Linked DNA regions of Homo sapiens: region 2 is linked to region 1. Evidence: fine-mapped expression QTL. A gene starts in region 1. The other region holds a variant in brackets. All regions are shown on one strand. Distances are from middle to middle. Region 1 holds the start of COPB1 (coat protein complex I subunit beta 1). Region 2 has its middle 56 kb from the start of PSMA1.

Region 1 (9,035 bases):
AAAAGACAAAAACCATAATCCAAAATTTGGCTGCTGACATCTAGAGGAGTTATTTTATTTTCTGAGATAATACATCTTTCTGAAGAAAAATTCATTTATAGATAGTAACCCATTTTAGACCTAATTCTAATTAGCTGCTATTGGCTTTGGGCAAGTTACTTAGCTCTTTTTTAAGGAAACCCTTTGGAGAATTATAGTGAGGGTTAAAAGGGAGAATTTATGTGATAACACCTTTTAAACTCTAAAATTCATAGTTTATTTTTTCCCCCCAACTTTCCCAAATCTTCAAAAGCCTTAGTAGGTTTAAATCCCCCTGATTTCTTAGAGAATGGTAAAAGTAGCTCTGGGAGCCTTATTAAGGGAAAGATGTCTAAGTACTGGAATGTGAGAGATGTCAGTTTCTCCAGCAGTAGCCTCAGGAATCTACCATGCAAGCTTGGGAGTTAGACGCAAGTACCATGTGGCTATTTGACCTACAGTGGAGTTGCATCAAGCACATGTAACTTTCCACACACATACACACACACACACACACACACACACACACAAAATAGTGAACTCAGGAACTCCCACCTGCCTCTACACTCAATGGGTATTTAGTCTGGGGAGGGAGCATAAGTGGGAAATATAATAATCTGCCCTTTGCTTAGGCAGATCTCTCTTCCACATGCATTCCATTGGGTGAGCCTCTGTCTTTGCTGAATGATTCTGCTGTTTAAAGATATTGTGGCTCATACCTGTAATCCCAGCACTTTGGGAGGCCGAGGCGGGTGGATCACCTGAGGTCAAGAGTTCGAGACCAGCCTGGGCAACATGGCAAAATCCCGTCTCTACTAAAAATACAAAAATTAAATGGGCATGGTAGCACGCGCCTGTAGTCCCAGCTACTCGGGAGGCTGAGGCAGGAGAATCACTTGAACCTGGGAGGCAGAGGTTGCAGTGAGCCGAGATCATGCCACTGCACTCCAGCCTGGCCAGGTGACAGAGCGAGACTCTGTCTCAAAAAATAAAACCAAAGATATTGTTATGTTTATCATTGTGGAACATGCACCTGTTCCACAAATACAAACCACTAGTTGGCTTGTATTCAGCTAAAAAAATAAATATTCTGTATTATACTTTGGGAGCAATTTAAGTAATTTTTTCAATGTGATTTTTAGTCTTATATACTGACTTTAGAACTTAAAGTCCTCCCCACTCCAGTAATACTCAACCCCACTGTATATACAGTTCATTGTGATGCCCTTTCATGTTTAGTCTGTTGTACTCACATATTCCATTTAGTCTGTTGAATAATTACAAACAGTAAAATCCTAATGATGTTTTATAAAGCCTGTCACTTTGATACAAAGATACTCAATTCACCTGGAATTTATTGAGCATGTATGTGTGCAGCTCTGAAGAACTGGCATGGAATAAAAGGCAGTGGCTGGGTGTGTTGGCTCACGCCTGTAATCTCAACACTTTGAGAGGCCGAGGTGGGAGGATTGCTTGAGTTCAGTTCAAGACCAGCCTGGGCAATATAGTGAGACCCCATCTCTACAAAAATTTTTAAAACTTAGCCTGGTGTGGTGGCACACACCTGTGGTCCCAGCTACTCAGGAGGCTGAGGTGGGAGAATCACTTGAGTCCAGAGTCTGAGGCTGCAGTGAGCTATGATCATGCCGCTGTACTCCGGCCTGGGTGACAGAGTGAGACTCTTGTCTCAAAAAAATAAAAATAATAACGTAGATGACAGGATTCAGGTCCTAGTTCTAACTCAGTGTTTGGCCATTACATGATTTGGGGCAAGTCCCTATTCTCTAGGCCTTGACTTTTTAGATACCACAATTTCTATGGTCCTTGATAAAATGACAAGGTCTTTGCTCTGCATTTATAATTTAAAGGCATTCAAAATTATATAATTACATCTTAGAGTAAAACAGCCCAAACAAAGTGTATTTTACAACAGATCAGGAAGAGTTAATGAGGTTAATATTAAGGTCCTTATACCCATTCAAAAAGCTTTGTACTTAAGAATATGGAAAAATATATGCACTGCCAATGACAATTGTAGGTTCAGATCTAACTAAAGTAATATGTAAAACATTACATTTTCTTGCCTTTTCATATTTAGAACTTAATGACTTGGGGTCATGAGAAACCTCAAAGTTATTCTGTAACAGAATGAACCTCTGGGGCAAATGAAGTCTGTACGGTTTAAGTCCTACACCATGATGGCCCTAAACTGAGCTTTCTTACTGTAAATCTAGTTTTTATACCTTTTTTGGCCTCATTTCTTGCTGACAGATTGTCACTTTTTGGTAAGTTAAGTGGGCTTGGAAACCAGATAACTGCATTTGTAAAACTTCCATGTTAAAAACGAATACACAGAAAAGGAACAAACTGTTGTACACACACCCGGGATTGATCTCAGGGGAATTATGCTCAGTAAAAAAATCCAATCTCAAAAGATTACATTGTATAATTCCATTTATATAACATTGAGATGATAAAAATCATAGAGAATTATTAGTGGTTGCCACAGGTTAGTGTGGGAGGTGGCTATGGCTATCAAAGGACAGCATGAGAATCCTTGTGATAGAACTGTTCTGTCTCGACTGTGTTGGTGATTACACACATATAAGCATGATAAAATTGTCTACAAGTGAATATAAAAACGAGTACATGTAAAACTAGTGAAGTCTGAACAAGGCTGGGTGAATTATGTCTGTCAATTTCCTGAAATTGATATTGTACTATAACTATGCAAGATGTTACCATTGGGAGAAACTAGGTAAAGAGTATATGGGATCTCTGTATTCATGTCACTCTACCATTAAGATTAAATATTAAAAAAAATGAATGCACAGAATCAGAGAGGCACTCTTAAAGTGCTGTCAACACATGGCCTTTGAATACAATTTTGGGTGCTCAAAGAATTTGTAGATTGCTTGATGGTTCTAAAAAGAGAAAGCTCAAAAGAGCTAGATCCTACATAAATGAGGTACTATTGGTGTTCCATCTTCCTGAGATGAACCTGTTAACTAGGGCAGTTGCCGTCAGATCTGTTTTTATTCGCAGTATTTTGCTTAAGCTTTAAGATATTTTGTTATTAATAATTGGCCATAAAACCCTTTTGTGGGCAGAGGGAGGTGTAGGGGCGGGGCGTGCTATGGAACTTCAAATGGGCAAAACCGAAAGTACTATGGCTGATTGCAGCTGTAACAGGTCTTTGGAGATACGTAAAATCCTTTAAAACAGTGACTGTCTCCCTTTATGCATAAAAATTTTTTCTAATCTACTGGGTGCTCAGAAAGGATCACGGAAAGAGGCCATTATTAAATAAAAAGCAGAAATTATACCAATGTGACTTTGGATTTTCAAATAACTCCAGCCCTACCTGCAGAGAGGCAGATTCAAACTACTAGCGATGTTAAGAACTGAAATGGATTTTAATCTAGTGATAATTAATAAAATAACTGAATTACCTTCCCAATAGTATTAGTTACTTTCCCAGTTTATTAGGGTGTGGACAAGAAAAAGGATTACTGGGTTTCCACTTTCTAGTCCAGAGCTCTTTTTCACGGGAACAGAGCCCTGTAAAAGTTTCCCTCTCTCCAAGCACTTTCTCCCCTTGACTGTTCCTGAAGAAGGAACGATTTCCAGTTAGCGTTTAAATTAGCATAGTGCTTAACTCAGAGCTTGGCTTGCAGGGAAAACTAGAAAATACGTGGTTTCATTGCTCTGCGGCCTAATCAAACCCTGGACAAGAGAAGAGGAAGAAAATAGGATATACTTGCAGCGCGCAAGCGCTGCACAAAGAAAGCATGTCCTCTCTGAGTCGCCGTAGGTGCTAGGTGGCTGTGGCTTCGGTCGTTACCCCACCCCCTTCCACGTCAGCCAAGGACTCTGGAGCCGCCGCCGCCGCTGCTGCGGTTCATAGCCGGAGTAGACGGAGCCGCAGTAGACGGATCCGCGGCTGCACCAAACCACTGCCCCTCGGAGCCTGGTAGTGGGCCACAAGCCCCCAGTCCCAGAGGCGTGGTGGGTCGGGCAGAGTCGGAAGAACTGGCTTTCTAGCTGGAAGATGCGGAAGGGGAGCGACTAGGCCGCTTGCGTCTGGGCCTGGCAGAAGGGACCGGGTGGGGGTACGGGTGGGGGTGCGGGTCGGGGTGGGGGCGGAGGGCTAGGAAGCTCCGGGTCGGACGCTCCATCCCGTCCTTTGTATTGGCCGGGGGTCTTTTCCCTCCCAAGACCCCTAGGCGTACCCTTTCAGGCCTAGGGCTGCTTTGCTGGAGGAAGGGGAGGAGGAAGCGGGTGGGGCGAGGTGGGGGTGCAGCGCGTTGATTAAGGGACCCGCGGACATAGAGTCGGAACCCACCAAGGACCGCGATAAAGCGCTTTAGGGTTTTGGCAGAGTATTCAGGCACAAGGTCTCTTAACTTGAGCATGCAGATTGTGTGTTGTGTAAAAACCATACGGTCCATAACATTGTGGGGTGTGGCTGGGGGGACTGTCACTGTTCTGTGGGCCTTCATTCGGCTATACAGCATTCTCAAACACTGGACCGGGATGCGATGAGGGAGTGATAGATAATATACCTTATGCCAGAGCTGATAATGTGGTTTTTACTAGAATTTATTTTTATGGGAACACGATATAGATTGACCTGCCCTTTCTAATACTTTAAAAGGTCACTATAGGTACTTGTTTGTGGGTTTTTTTTTTTTAATTTGTAATGATATGTCTGTGTTTATTTTTCTAGATTTTCTGGCATCCTTAAATCTTGTGTCAAGGATTGGTTATAATATAACCAGAAACCATGACGGCGGCTGAGAACGTATGCTACACGTTAATTAACGTGCCAATGGATTCAGAACCACCATCTGAAATTAGCTTAAAAAATGATCTAGGTAAACTTCGATATTATTTTGAGAATGAAATGAAAAAAGAAAAAACAAAAATAAAAAACTCATATTTCATATTCCTTTATAATTAGAAATGCTTAATTTTTGTCTAAAGTTTTTCTAGGATCTCTTCGATAGACCTTTTATTAAAAATGCGAACTTCTTTAAATATTGGTTGTTTGAAATAGAACATCTCAGTTTATCTTAGTAAACCTAAAGAAATTGTAATAGTTTAGATATTCCTCAAAATGTCATAATTTTTGTAGACTTCAATATATTAATGTGGCTGATTATTTTCTCTAGGCAACAGGTTGAGGATGTGTATTGGAATATCTTAATTCCATCGTGCACTTAACTTCATGTTACTTAGCTTGTAAAACCAAAAGAACTTTGTTCTTTGGATTACCCACCCAAACAATTAGGTGAACACTGGAATAAACATGTATTTTCCAGAAAAGTTTACCTTTTCATTTTTTATGCATTTTTGCAAATAAGAAAACAACTATATTTCTGAACTTTTTGTAATGTTTAATTTTTGGGGGTACACAGTAGATGTATATATTTATGGGGTACATGAAATGCTTTGATACAGGCATGCAATACATAATTATCACATGGAAAAATGGAGTATCCATCCCTTCAAGCATTTGTCTTCTGTGTGACAATCCAGTTACACTTTCAGTTATTTTTAAATGTCCAATTAAATTATTATTGACTGTAGTTACCCTGTGTGCTATCAAATATCGGGTCTAACTCATTTTTTCTGTACCCATTAACCATCTCCACTTCCCTACCACTACCCTTCCCACCTCTGATAACCATCCTTTTACTCTGTCTCCGTGAGTTTGTTTTGATTTTTAGCTTCCACAAATAAGTGAGAACATGTGAAGTTTGTCTTTCTATGCCTGACTTATTTCATGTAACATAATGACCTCCAGTTCCATCCATATTTTTGCAAATGACAAGATCTCATTCTTTTTTTATGGCTGAATAGTACTCCATTGTGTATATGTACCACATTTTCTTTATACATTTATCTGTTGGTGGACACTTAGGTTGCTTTCAAGTTTTGACTGTTGTAAACAGTGCTGCAACAAACATAGGAGTCCAGATATCTCTTTGATGTACTCATTTCCTTTCTTTTGGATATATACCCAGTAGTCGGATTGCTGAATCGTATGGTACCCCTGTTTTTAGTTTTTTGAGGACCCTCCAAACTGTTCTCCATAGTGGGTATACTAGTTTACATTCCCACCAACAGTGTACGAGGGTTCCCTTTTCTCCACATCCTCTCCAGCATTTGTTTTTGCTTGTCTTTTGGATAAAAGCCATTTTAACTGGGGTGAGATGATATCTCATTGTAGTTTTGATATGCATTTCTCTGATGATCAGTGATGTTGAGCACCTTTTCATATGCCTGTTTGCCAATTGTATGTCTTTGTGAAATGTCTGTTCAAATCTTTTGCCCATTTTTAAATCAGATTATGAGTTTTTTTTTTTCCTGTAGAGTTGTTTGAGCTCCTTACATATCTGGTTATTAATCCCTTGTGAGATAGGTAGTTAGCACATATTTTCTCCCATTCTGTGGGTTGTCTCATCACGTATGTCGATTGTTTCCTTTGCTGTGCGGAAGCTTTTTAACTTGATGTGATCCCATTTGTCCGTTTTTGCTTTGGTTGCCTGTGCCTGTGGGGTATTATTCAAGAAATTTTTGGCCAGACCAGCGTCCTGGAGATTTTTCCCAATATTTTCTTGTAGTAGTTTCATAGTTTAAAGTCTTAGATTTAAGCCTTTAATCCATTTTGATTTTATTTTTGTGTAAGTTGAGAGATGGGGGACAAGTTTCATTCTTCTGCACATAGTTTTCCAAGCACCATTTATTGAAGGGACTGTCTTTTCTCCAATGTATGTTCTTGGCACCTTTGTCAAAATGAGTTCACTGTAGGTGTATGGATTTGTTTCTTGGTTCTGTTATTTTCCATGGGTCTTTATGTCTGTTTTTATGCCAGTACCATGCTGTTTTGGTTACTGTAGCTATGTAGGATAATTTGATGTCAAGTAATGTGATTCCTTCAGTTTTGTTCTTTTTGCTTAGGATAGCTTTGGCTATTCTGGGTCTTTTGTGGTTCCATATAAATTTTAGGATTTTTTTTTTTTTTCTGTGAAGAATGTCATTGGTATTTTGATGGGAATTGCATTGACTCTAGATTGCTTTGGGTGGTATGGACATTTTAACAATACTGATTCTTCTAATCCATGATCATGGAATATCTTTCCATTTGTTGATGTTCTCTTCAATTTCTTTCATCAGTATTTATAGTTTTCATTGTAGAAATCTTTCATTTATTTGGTTAAATTAATTCCTAGGTATCTAATTTTATCTGTGGGTATTGTAAATGGGATTAGATTACTTCTTCAATTTCTTTTTCAGATTGTTCACTGTTGTCATATAGAAATGCTACTGATTTTTGTATGTTGATTTTGTGTCCTGGAACTTTACTAAATTTATCATATTTCTGAATTTTAAAAATGTATACCGTGTCTCCTTTTTGTGAGTGATTCTGTCAAGAAAAAAAAAATTTATAATTAATATGCTTTCCAAAGTAATGATTCTTGTTTAATTGAACTGCTAAAAATAAATACAACTTAAACTGATAAATATTGTTTAAACAGAGCAGAGTGAAAATTATGCTTCAAATATAGAAAGGATCTTTTAGAAGATAGTTTGCAGTTTGAAAAGAAACTTAATATTTTACTTGCCTATTCCCACTTCTTAATCAGCAGTAATGGAATACCTCCTGATTCTAGGTTACTTAATACTAGGTTTCTATTGAGGTCTATTTTTAGAGAAGGGAAAAGAAACCCAGTTTTATGATATTTAAAATGATACCATTATATACATAAGCCACATATATTTCCCTTTTTTCATGTTCATGTAGGATAGTTGAATGCAAAATAGTGAATACATTCATTAGTGTTTTTCCTCATAATTTAAAAATTTTCATTGTTAGATCCTCAGGATACCTAAGGTTATAGCTAGGAAGGTAAAGAATAAAATCTGCCCTTAGTTGGAACAATGCCCTAGTCTTAATTGAAGCTGCCTTAGCTACCTTCCTCCAACCAATAAATAAATACATACTCTCCAGTTTAATGTATATTTTTGCCATTAAGAAGAGTTGAGACTGGGCATGGTGGCTCATGCCTGTAATCCCAGCACTTTGGGAAGCTGAGGCAGGTGGATCACTTGACTTCAGGAGTTCGAGACCAGCGTGGCCAACATGGCGAAACCCCATCTCTAGTAAAAATACAAAAATTTTAAGTGGCTATTAAATGAAGAGTTCTGTGGGCCAGATGAACCACCGCATCTGACGCTCAGAACTCTGTTTCATAGCCGCTTAGCTCTAATCATTAGAAATGTATTTCTCATATTTAGGCCCAAATCTGGTTCCCGGTAACTACTACCCATTAGTTGTAGTTCTTTTCCTCATAATGGCCCTAAGGTTATTGAAGACTTGTAATCATTCTTTGTTCTCCCCTTCCCAAGATAATTCATTTATTTTGATGATCTAAACAGTTGTAGTACAGTGTGCTACTACATACTTCTCTGCCTTTGAGTTTTGGATCCAGAAGATTTTTAGTACTATAAATTCTTCAGTATGCAATGATAATGGTGTGAAATTTTAGATAGTTTTGCGTAAAATACTTTATGTTGCAGAGTTTTTAGGCTAAATAACAGTAAACTAGCATTTTATCTTTAATGTGTCATCCTTAATTCTAAATAATGACTACTAATCTAGAACATTTGAATTACCTCCCAGTTTTCCAGATGATATCTTAAGAAAGATTCTAAAGTTTTACAGCCTGCCTGCAGAACTATGATGAGATTTTAGAAATAATCCACTACTTTAGTTTTCAGCCTTTTTGAGTATGACGTTTCTCTTTCTAATGTTAAAAAAGTTACATATTTATCCTCCCATAATAGTAGTTTTAACTTTGTTAAAATGCACACAAATAGCTAAAAGCTGTTTTGAATTCAAAATCAATTAATAGTATGTATTTACATTTTGAAAAATAGCTATATGTGTTTTGAAACACGTTTACTTGGTATGACTGTAGATTCATGGAGCCTGCATTAACTCAATTGGT
Region 2 (9,035 bases), 77 kb before region 1:
GCCTCCAAACTGGATAATCTCTCAGTTTCCTACAATTCCCTCTTCTTGTGCCTCTTCCAGACTTACTCCCTTGTGTTCTTCTCTGCCTATGGCTCCAGTCTGACAGGCTTAAGATCTAAAGCCTGGATCCCACTATCACCAAACCAAGTATGTATTTCAGACTTGAAGCCATAATGATCTGATCCTTTCATTTTTCAGCAAATGTTTATTAAGCACTTACTAGGCACTGGAGATTTAGGGATGAGTATGACACAGTTTTATCTTTCTAGAAGCTCTCAAAGTACTGGACTCAGGGGAAGTTAAGATGGGACACAAGGCCAACAGTTCCTATGAATGGAGTGACTTAGAATCACAGCAGAGGCAGATGCCAACTTATTGAAGAGAATAAGGAGGCTTTTTAATGCAGGACAGAAGATGGAGTGGCAGGAAAAGTGGTCTTGAGGTGTAGCAGGAATTATCCAGCAGAGAATAGCATTCCAAGCAGATGGAACAGCATGTTCAAGGCTAGGAAGGCAATAAAGGATAAGACGTGTTTGAGAAATAGCAAGAATTTTAGTATGGCAGGAGCAGACAGTCTTTGAGGGAGAGTGGTGAGAGATGATTCTAAAATAGTAGGTAGAAGCCAGCTTGTGAAATCCTTGTGTGTTGTGTTCTGGAATCTGAAAATCATCCATTATTCATAGACAGCCAATGAGATCTCAAGCGAGAGTGACATGATTACATTTGTATTGCAGACAGATCACATGAGCAACAGTGTCGCTCTCTTGTAGTAATCAGATCTTTCTTTCCAGCCCTGCTCTTTGGATTTGAGGTTCTTCAGATCAACCCAATTTGTGGCCTCCATTATCACTGCAGACAGATTTTTCTCTCCCTTTCCTCAGCACACAATCAGTGTACCTTGAAGTTCCCTCTTACCCATCCATCAGCCTGGGAATGGCATTTCCTCAGAGAAGCAATTCTCAAACACATGTGGGTGTGTAGCTTGTAGGAAGGATATATCATGTTCACTTGGAGGGCATTTTCAAAGTACATGTGCCTTTGCATCACATGCCCCTCTTGCTCTGAAATTCTAATAGGCCAAAGGTTTGAGGGGGGTTTCTAGGGGAACTAGCATTTTGTAAAAGTTTATTCTTTTAAAGAATAGAGATCTAGACATGGAAACTCTAATCAAGACATACTCCTCTCAATTCCTTAGTTGTTATTAAAATACTACAAAATCTGCATTTATATTATAATAGTGACACCTCTTATAGTTGGTCGAAAGTTGGCCCCAAAAAGGATGTGTCCATGTCCTAATACTTGGCCCCTGTTAATGTTACCTTATTTAAAAAAAAAAAAAAAAAAAAAAAGTCTTTGCAGCTGTAATTAAGTTAAGGATCTTGAAATGAGATCATCCAGATGGATTTTAAATCCAATTCCAAGTATCCTTATAACAGACAGAAGAGTAAAAGACAAAGACAAAGAGGAAAGGCCATATGAAGATGAAGGTAGAGATCGCCGTTACGTAGCTAGAAGCCAAAGAATGCCTGGAGACATCAGAAGCTGGACAAGGCAAAGAAGCATTCTCTTCTAGAACCTTCAGAAGGATCATGGCCCTGCCAATACCTTGATTTCAGACTTCTGTCCTCTAGAATAGTAAAAGGATAGATTTATGTTGTTTTAAGTCACGAGGTTTGTAGCAATTTGTTATGGCATCTCTAGAATGTCAACATACCTTCTTTCTAATAGGTTATACCTAATAGTTACTTTTAAGAGAGGAGACAGTTTCCAAAGTGTTGTATAATAGCATGATGTAAATGAATTTAGGCCAGGTAACTTAATCCCTTTGAGCTGGTTTCTTCACCTAATCCCATCCTCACAGAATGTTGAGATGATTCAATGAGATAAAATAAAACTACCCAGCAGACAACTGGCAAAAACCAGGCTCTAAAGGAAGTATCTATTTGAGAATAGGACTCAACACATGTTGCATAGACACTCTGGTGAAACAAGCTCTCCCAGGAGAAGGCCGGGATAATTAACATGCAATGTCTGGGCCTCTATCAGAATCTCTTTTACATGTAACCACTTACACCCATCTGGTATCAGCTCTTGTTTGTCACCAACTAACCACTGCCCTCTCCTGCAACCTTCTCTACTTCCTGTTTACGTAGATAGCTGCTTCCTGACTGACGAAACTGAATGGTTTCAGCCAGACTGCTTTTCCCCTGGACCCATGCCAAGAATACCTTCTTTACTTTGCATTTCTCATTCTGCTTTCTTCTTATAGTAGAAGCCATCATATTAATGAGTTGCAAACTGCTGCCCTGAGCTATTCCCAGCTAATCAGTTAGTCTTCTTCCTAGCTATTGGATTAAATCAGATGAACACAAGTAATAACACGTCAGGTATCATGTCTGTATCAAGAAATTTGTCCATCCTTTCTTGCTCCAGCCCTGCCAAGCTACTGACAATGATGCTTTTTTCATTTAACTGGACAAGTCATAATGCTGACACTCTCAAGCCCAGCCCTGTCCTGTTTATGTGAAGCAATTCTAACCAAGGCCAGCAGGACAACAAACAATAGGGTTAAACTTGACCAGAACTCCAGATTGGGAGACTATTTTTTTTTAATTATACTTTAAGCTCTGGGGTACATGTGCAGAACATGCAAGTTTGTTACAAAGGTATACACTTGCCATGGTGGCTTGCTGCACCCATCAACCCGTGATCTACATTAGGTATTTCTCCTAATGCTATCCCTCCCCTAGCCCCCAACCCCCCAACAGGCCCCGGTGTGTGATGTTCACCTCCCTGTGCCCATGTGTTCTCATTGTTCAACTCCCACTTATGAGCGACAACATGTGGCTGTTTAAATGATCTAATTTGTGGTTCTCAATATGAGTGAATATGCAAATCATGTTAGAGGCTCTTTCAAACAAACAGATAAACAAATATTTGGAACATGAGTTAGGCATGGATTTTTTTGTTAACTCCTAAGTGGGATAATAACTTTTCCCTCAACTCCAGGCTTATCATCCTTAACACAATAGTTAAGGATGTGAACACTGGAGCCTGACTGTCTGGGTTCAAATTCTGGCTTTGCCACCCATAAGCTGTGTGGCCTTGAGCATGTCACCTAACCTCCTTTGCCTCAATTTCCTCATCTGTAAAACAGTTGTAATAATACCTACATTTGCCAGGGAATTGTGAGGAATAAATAAGTTAACTTGTGAAGAGCACTTAGGCTATATAAATGCTATTATTACTATTACTTTTATTGTTGTTTTATAACTTCTCTGGAGAGACAGGAAGTTGGTCAGAGGGTGAGATGCCTGAATTAGTGATTTCAAGATGAGGCAGGTTGAGGTGATGTGAGGGTTCACAGTATGACAGTGGAAGTGGATAGCAGAGGTAGAATGGAGGAAAGATCATCATTGGAAGGAGAAAATTAGTAGTAGTATTAAAGCATGTTCTTTATGAGACTGGAGTACCTGAGTTCAGATCCTGCCTTCACTACTTAATGGCAGCGCAACCATGAGCAGATTACTTAATTGTTTTCTCATCTGTACCACTACAGAACCATGAGCAGATTTCTCCTCTGTAAAATGAAGATAATAATAGTGACCTATCTTATAGGGCTTTCATGGAATCAAATAAGTTAGTAAATAACATACTGATTTCTTAGAACAGTGACTGGCATTTAGCAAGTGTTAGCTCAGGATACAAAAGCAATGTGCAAAATCACAAGCATTCTTATACACCAATAACAGACAAACAGAGAGCCAAATCATGAGTGAACTGCCATTTACAGTTGCTTCAAAGAGAATAAAATACCTAGGAATCCAACTTACAAGGGATGTGAAGGACCTCTTCAAGGAGAACTACAAAACACTGCTCAACGAAATAAAAGAGGACACAAAGAAATGGAAGAACATTCCATGCTCACGGATAGGAAGAATCAATATCATGAAAATGGCCATACTGCGCAAGGTAATTTATAGATTCAATGCCATCCCCATCAAGCTACCAATGACTTTCTTCACAGAATTGGAAAAAACTACTTTAAAGTTCACGTGGAACCAAAACAGAGCCTGCATTGCCAAGACAATCCTAAGCCAAAAGAACAAAGCTGGAGGCATCATGCTATCTGACTTCAAACTATACTACAAGGCTACAGTAAACAAAACAGCATGTCACTGGAACCAAAACAGAGATATAGATCAATGGAACAGAACAGAGCCCTCAGAAATAATACCACACATCTACAACCATCTGATCTTTGACAAACCTGACAAAAACAAGAAATGGGGAAAGGATTCCCTATTTAATACATGGTGCTGGGAAAACTGGCTAGCCATATGTAGAAAGCTAAAACTGAATCCCTTACTTACACCTTATACAAAAATTAATTCAAGATGGATTAAAGACTTAAATGTTAGACCTAAAACCATAAAAACCCTAGAAGAAAACCTAGGCAATACCATTCAGGACATAGGCATGTGCAAGGACTTCATGACTAAAACATCAAAAGCAATGGCAACAAAAGCCAAAATTGACAAATGGGATCTAATTAAACTAAAGAGCTTCTGCACAGCAAAAGAAACTACCATCAGAGAGAACAGGCAACCTACAGAATGGGAGAAAATTTTTACAATCTACCCATCTGACAAAGGGCTAATATCCAGAATCTACAAAGAATTTAAACAAATTTACAAGAAAAAAACAAATATACAAGAAAAAATCAAACAACCCCATCAAAAAGTGGGCAAAGGATATGAACAGACACTTCTCAAAAGAAGACATTTATGCAGGCAACAGACACATGAAAAAATGCTCATCATCACTGGCCATCAGAGAAATACAAATCAAAACCACAATGAGATACCATCTCAC[A/G]CCAGTTAGAATGGTGATCATTAAAAAGTCAGGAAACAACAGGTGCTGGAGAGGAGGTGGAGAAATAGGAGCACTTTTACATTGCTGGTGGGACTGTAAACTAGTTCAACCATTGTGGAAGACAGTGTGGTGATTCCTCAAGGATCTAGAACTAGAAATACCATTTGACCCAGCAATCCCATTACTGGGTATATACCCAAAGGATTATAAATCATGCTGCTATAAAGACACATGCACACGTATGTTTATTGCGGCACTATTCACAATAGCAAAGACTTGGAACCAACCCAAATGTCCAACAATGATAGACTGGATGAAGAAAATGTGGCACATATACACCATGGAATACTATGCAGCCATAAAAAAGGATGAGTTCATGTCCTTTGTAGGGACATGGAGGAAGCTGGAAACCATCATTCTGAGCAAATTATCCCAAGGACAGAAAACCAAACACCGCATGTTCTAACTCGTAGGTGGGAATTGAAGAATGAGAACACATGGACACAGGGTGGGGAACATCACACACTGTGGCCTGAGGTGGGGTGGGGGTAGGGGGGAGGGATAGCATTAGGAGATATACCTAATGTAAATGACGAGTTAATGGATGCAGCACACCAACATGGCACATGTATACATATGTAACAAACCTGCACATTGTGCATATGTACCCTAGAATTTAAAGTATTATAATTAAACTATAATAAATTTTTTTAAAATTTAAAAAAAGAAATTTATTCTGCTGGATACCCTAAATCATCTCCCCCAGGTTCAAAGTTCCACAGATCTCTAGGGCAGGGGTAAAATTCCGCCAGTCTCTTTGCTAAAGCAAAGCAAGAGTTCATCTCCAGTTCCCAACAAGTTTCTCATCTCAATCTGAGATCACCGCAGCCTGGGACTTCATTGTCCATATCACTATCAGCATTTTGGTCAAAGCCCTTCAACAGGTCTCTAGGAAGTGCTAAAGTTTCCAACATTTTCCTTTCTTCTTCTGAGCCCTCCAAACTGTTCCAACCTCTGCCTGTTACCCAGTTCCAAAGTCACTTCTGCATTTTTTAGTATCCTTATAGCAGCACCCCACTATAGTGGTACCAATTTACTGTATAAGTCCATTCTCACATTGCTGCAAAGATAATACCCAAGACTCGGTAATTTATAAAGGAAAGAAGTTTAATTGACTCACAGTTCTGCATGGCTAAGGAGGCCTCAGGAAACTTATAATTATTGTGGAAGGGGAAGCAAACATGTCTTTCTTGACATGGTGGCAGGGGAAAGAAGTGCTGACCAAAGCAGGAAAAGCCCCTTATAAAACCATCAGATCTCATGAAAACTCACAATCAGGAGATGGGGGTAACCACCCCCATCATTCAATTACCTCCCACTGGGTCTCTCCCACAACACATGGGGATTATGGGAACTACCATTCAAGATGAGATTTGGGTGAGAACACAGCCAAACCATATCACCATACGTCTTCTGAAATCTAGGCAGGGGCATCCAAGCCTCAACTCTTGCACTATGTGCACCTGCAGGCTTAACACCGTGTGAAAGCTACCAAGGCTTATGGCTTGCACCTTCTGAAGCAGCAGCCCAAGTACCTGGGTAACTTTGAGCCACATCTGGAGCTGGAGTGGCTGGGATGTAGGGAGCAGTGTGCCCTGGGCCTGACCCACAAAATCATTTTTCCCTCCTAGGCCTCTGGACCTGTGATAAGAGAGGCTGTTGTGAAGGTCTGTAAAATATCTTCAGGGTCTTTTTCCCATTGTCTTGGCTACTAGTACTTCCCTCTCTTTGAGATATGCAAATTTCTGCAGCCTCCTTTAATTCCTTCCCTGAAAATGGGTGTTTCTTTTCTACCACATGGCCAGGCTGTGAATTTTCCAAACTTTTATACTCTGCTTCTCTTTTAAATATAAGTTCCAGTTTCAGGTTATTTCTTTGTTCATGCATATGAACATAGAATTTTAGAGGCAGCCAGGGCAATTCTTGAATGTTTTGCTGCTTAGAAATTTCTTCTGCCCGATACTCTAAATCATATATCTCAAATTCAAAGTTCCACAGATGTCTAGAGCAGGGGCACACTACCGCCAGGCTCTTTGCTAATGCATAACAAAAGTGACCTTTGCTCCAGTTCCCAATAAGTTCCAGACTTTGCTGAAGTTGCTTATCAGCTTAAGGAGATTTTGGGCTGACACGATGGGGTTTTCTGGATATACAATCATGTCATCTGCAAACAAGTACAATTTGACTTCCTCTTTTCCTAATTGAATACCCTTTATTTCTTTCTCCTGCCTGATTGCCCTGGCCAGAACTTCCAATAGTATATTGAATAGGAGTGGTGAGAGAGGCCATCCCTGTCTTGTGCCAGTTTTCAAAGGGAATGCTTCCAGTTTTTGCCCATTCAATATGATATTGGCTGTGGGTTTGTCATAAATAGCTCTTATTATTTTGAGATATGTCCCATCAATACCTAATTTATTGAGAGTTTTTAGCATGAAGGCCTGTTGAATTTTGTCAAAGGCCTTTTCTGCATCTATTGAGATAATCATGTGGTTTTTGTCTTTGGTTCTGTTTATATGCTGGATTATGTTTATTGATTTGCATACATTGAGCCAGCCTTACATCCCAGGGACGAAGCCCCCTTGATCATGGTGGATAAGCTTTTTGATGTGCTGCTGGATTCGGTTTGCCAGTATTTTATTGAGGATATTTGCATCGATGTCCATCAGGGATATTGATCTAAAATTCTCTTTTTTTGTTGTGTCTCTGCCAGGCTTGGTATCAGGATGATGCTGGCCTCATAAAATGAGTTAGGGAGGATTCTCTTTTTCTGTTGATTGGAATAGTTTCAGAAGGAATGGTACCAGCTCCTCCTTGTACCTCTGGTAGAATTCGGCTGTGAATCCATCTGGTCCTGGACTTTTTTTGGTTGGTAGGCTATTAATTATTGCCTCAGTTTCGGCTCCTGTTATTGGTCTATTCAGAGATTCAACTTCTTCCTGGTTTAGTCTTCAGAGGGTGTATGTGTCCAGGATTTTATCCATTTCTTCTAGATTTTCTAGTTTATTTGCGTAGAGGTGTTTATAGTATTCTCTGATGGTAGTTTGTATTTCCATGGGATTGGTGGTAATATCCCCTTTATCATTTTTTATTGTGTCTGTTTGATTCTTCTCTCTTTTCTTCTTTATTAGTCTTGCTATCAGTCTATCAGTTTTGTTGATCTTTTCAAAAAACCAGCTCCTGGATTCATTGATTTTTTGAAGGGTTTTTTGTGTCTCTATCTCCTTCAGTTCTGCTCTGATCTTAGTTATTTCTTGCCTTCTGCTAGCTTTTGAATGTGTTTGCTCTTGCTTCTCTAGTTCTTTTAATTGTGATGTTAGGGTGTCAATTTTAGATCTTTCTTGCTTTCTCTTGCAGGCATTTAGTGCTATATATTTCCCTCTACACACTGCTTTAAATGTGTCCCAGAGTTTCTGGTATGTTGTGTCTCTGTTCTCACTGTTTTCAAAGAACATCTTTATTTCTGCCTTCATTTCGTTATGTACTCAGTAGTCGTTCAGGAGCAGGTTGTTCAGTTTCCATGTAGTTGAGCAGTTTTCAGTGAATTTCTTAATCCTGAGTTCTTGTTTGATTGCACTGTGGTCTGAGAGACAGTTTCTTAAAATTTCTGTTTTTTTACATTTGCTGAGGAGTGCTTTACTTCCAAATATGTGGTCAATTTTGAAATAAGTGCGATGTGGTGCCGAGAAGAATATATCTTCTGTTAATTTGGTGTGGAGAGTTCTGTAGATGTCTATTAGGTCCACTTGCTGTGGAGCTGAGTTCAATTCCTGGATATCCTTGTTAACTTTCTGTTTCGTTGATCTGTCTAATATTGACAGTGGGGTGTTAAATTCTCCCATTATTATTGTATGGGAGTCTAAGTCTCTTTGTAGGTCTCTAAGGACTTGCTTTCTGAATCTGGGTGCTCCTGTATTGGGTGCATATATATTTAGGATAGTTAGCTCTTCTTGTTGAATTAATCCCTTTACCATTATGTAATGGCCTTCTTTGTCTCTTTTGATCTTTGTTGGCTTAAAGTCTATTTTATCAGAGACTAGACTTGCAACCCTGCTTTTTTTTTGTTTTCCATTTGCTTGGTAGATCTTCCTCCATCCCTTTAT

Evidence for each region.
Region 2: its variant is fine-mapped to the expression of COPB1 in lung (TOPMed, PIP 0.94).

The regions. Positions count from the first base shown.
Region 1 is chr11:14,494,698-14,503,732 of GRCh38, reverse strand. It overlaps COPB1 (coat protein complex I subunit beta 1), which reads left to right and starts at 3,922. Exons shown (of 22, transcript NM_001144061.2): 1 at 3,922-4,026; 2 at 4,748-4,895. The coding sequence starts at 4,805. RefSeq lists an enhancer at 3,701-3,800.
Region 2 is chr11:14,571,801-14,580,835 of GRCh38, reverse strand. It overlaps a transcript of PSMA1 not described here. Among named protein-coding and RNA genes, the nearest start is that of PSMA1, 56 kb to the right of the region's middle. The variant A/G (reference allele first, on the strand shown) is at 4,876.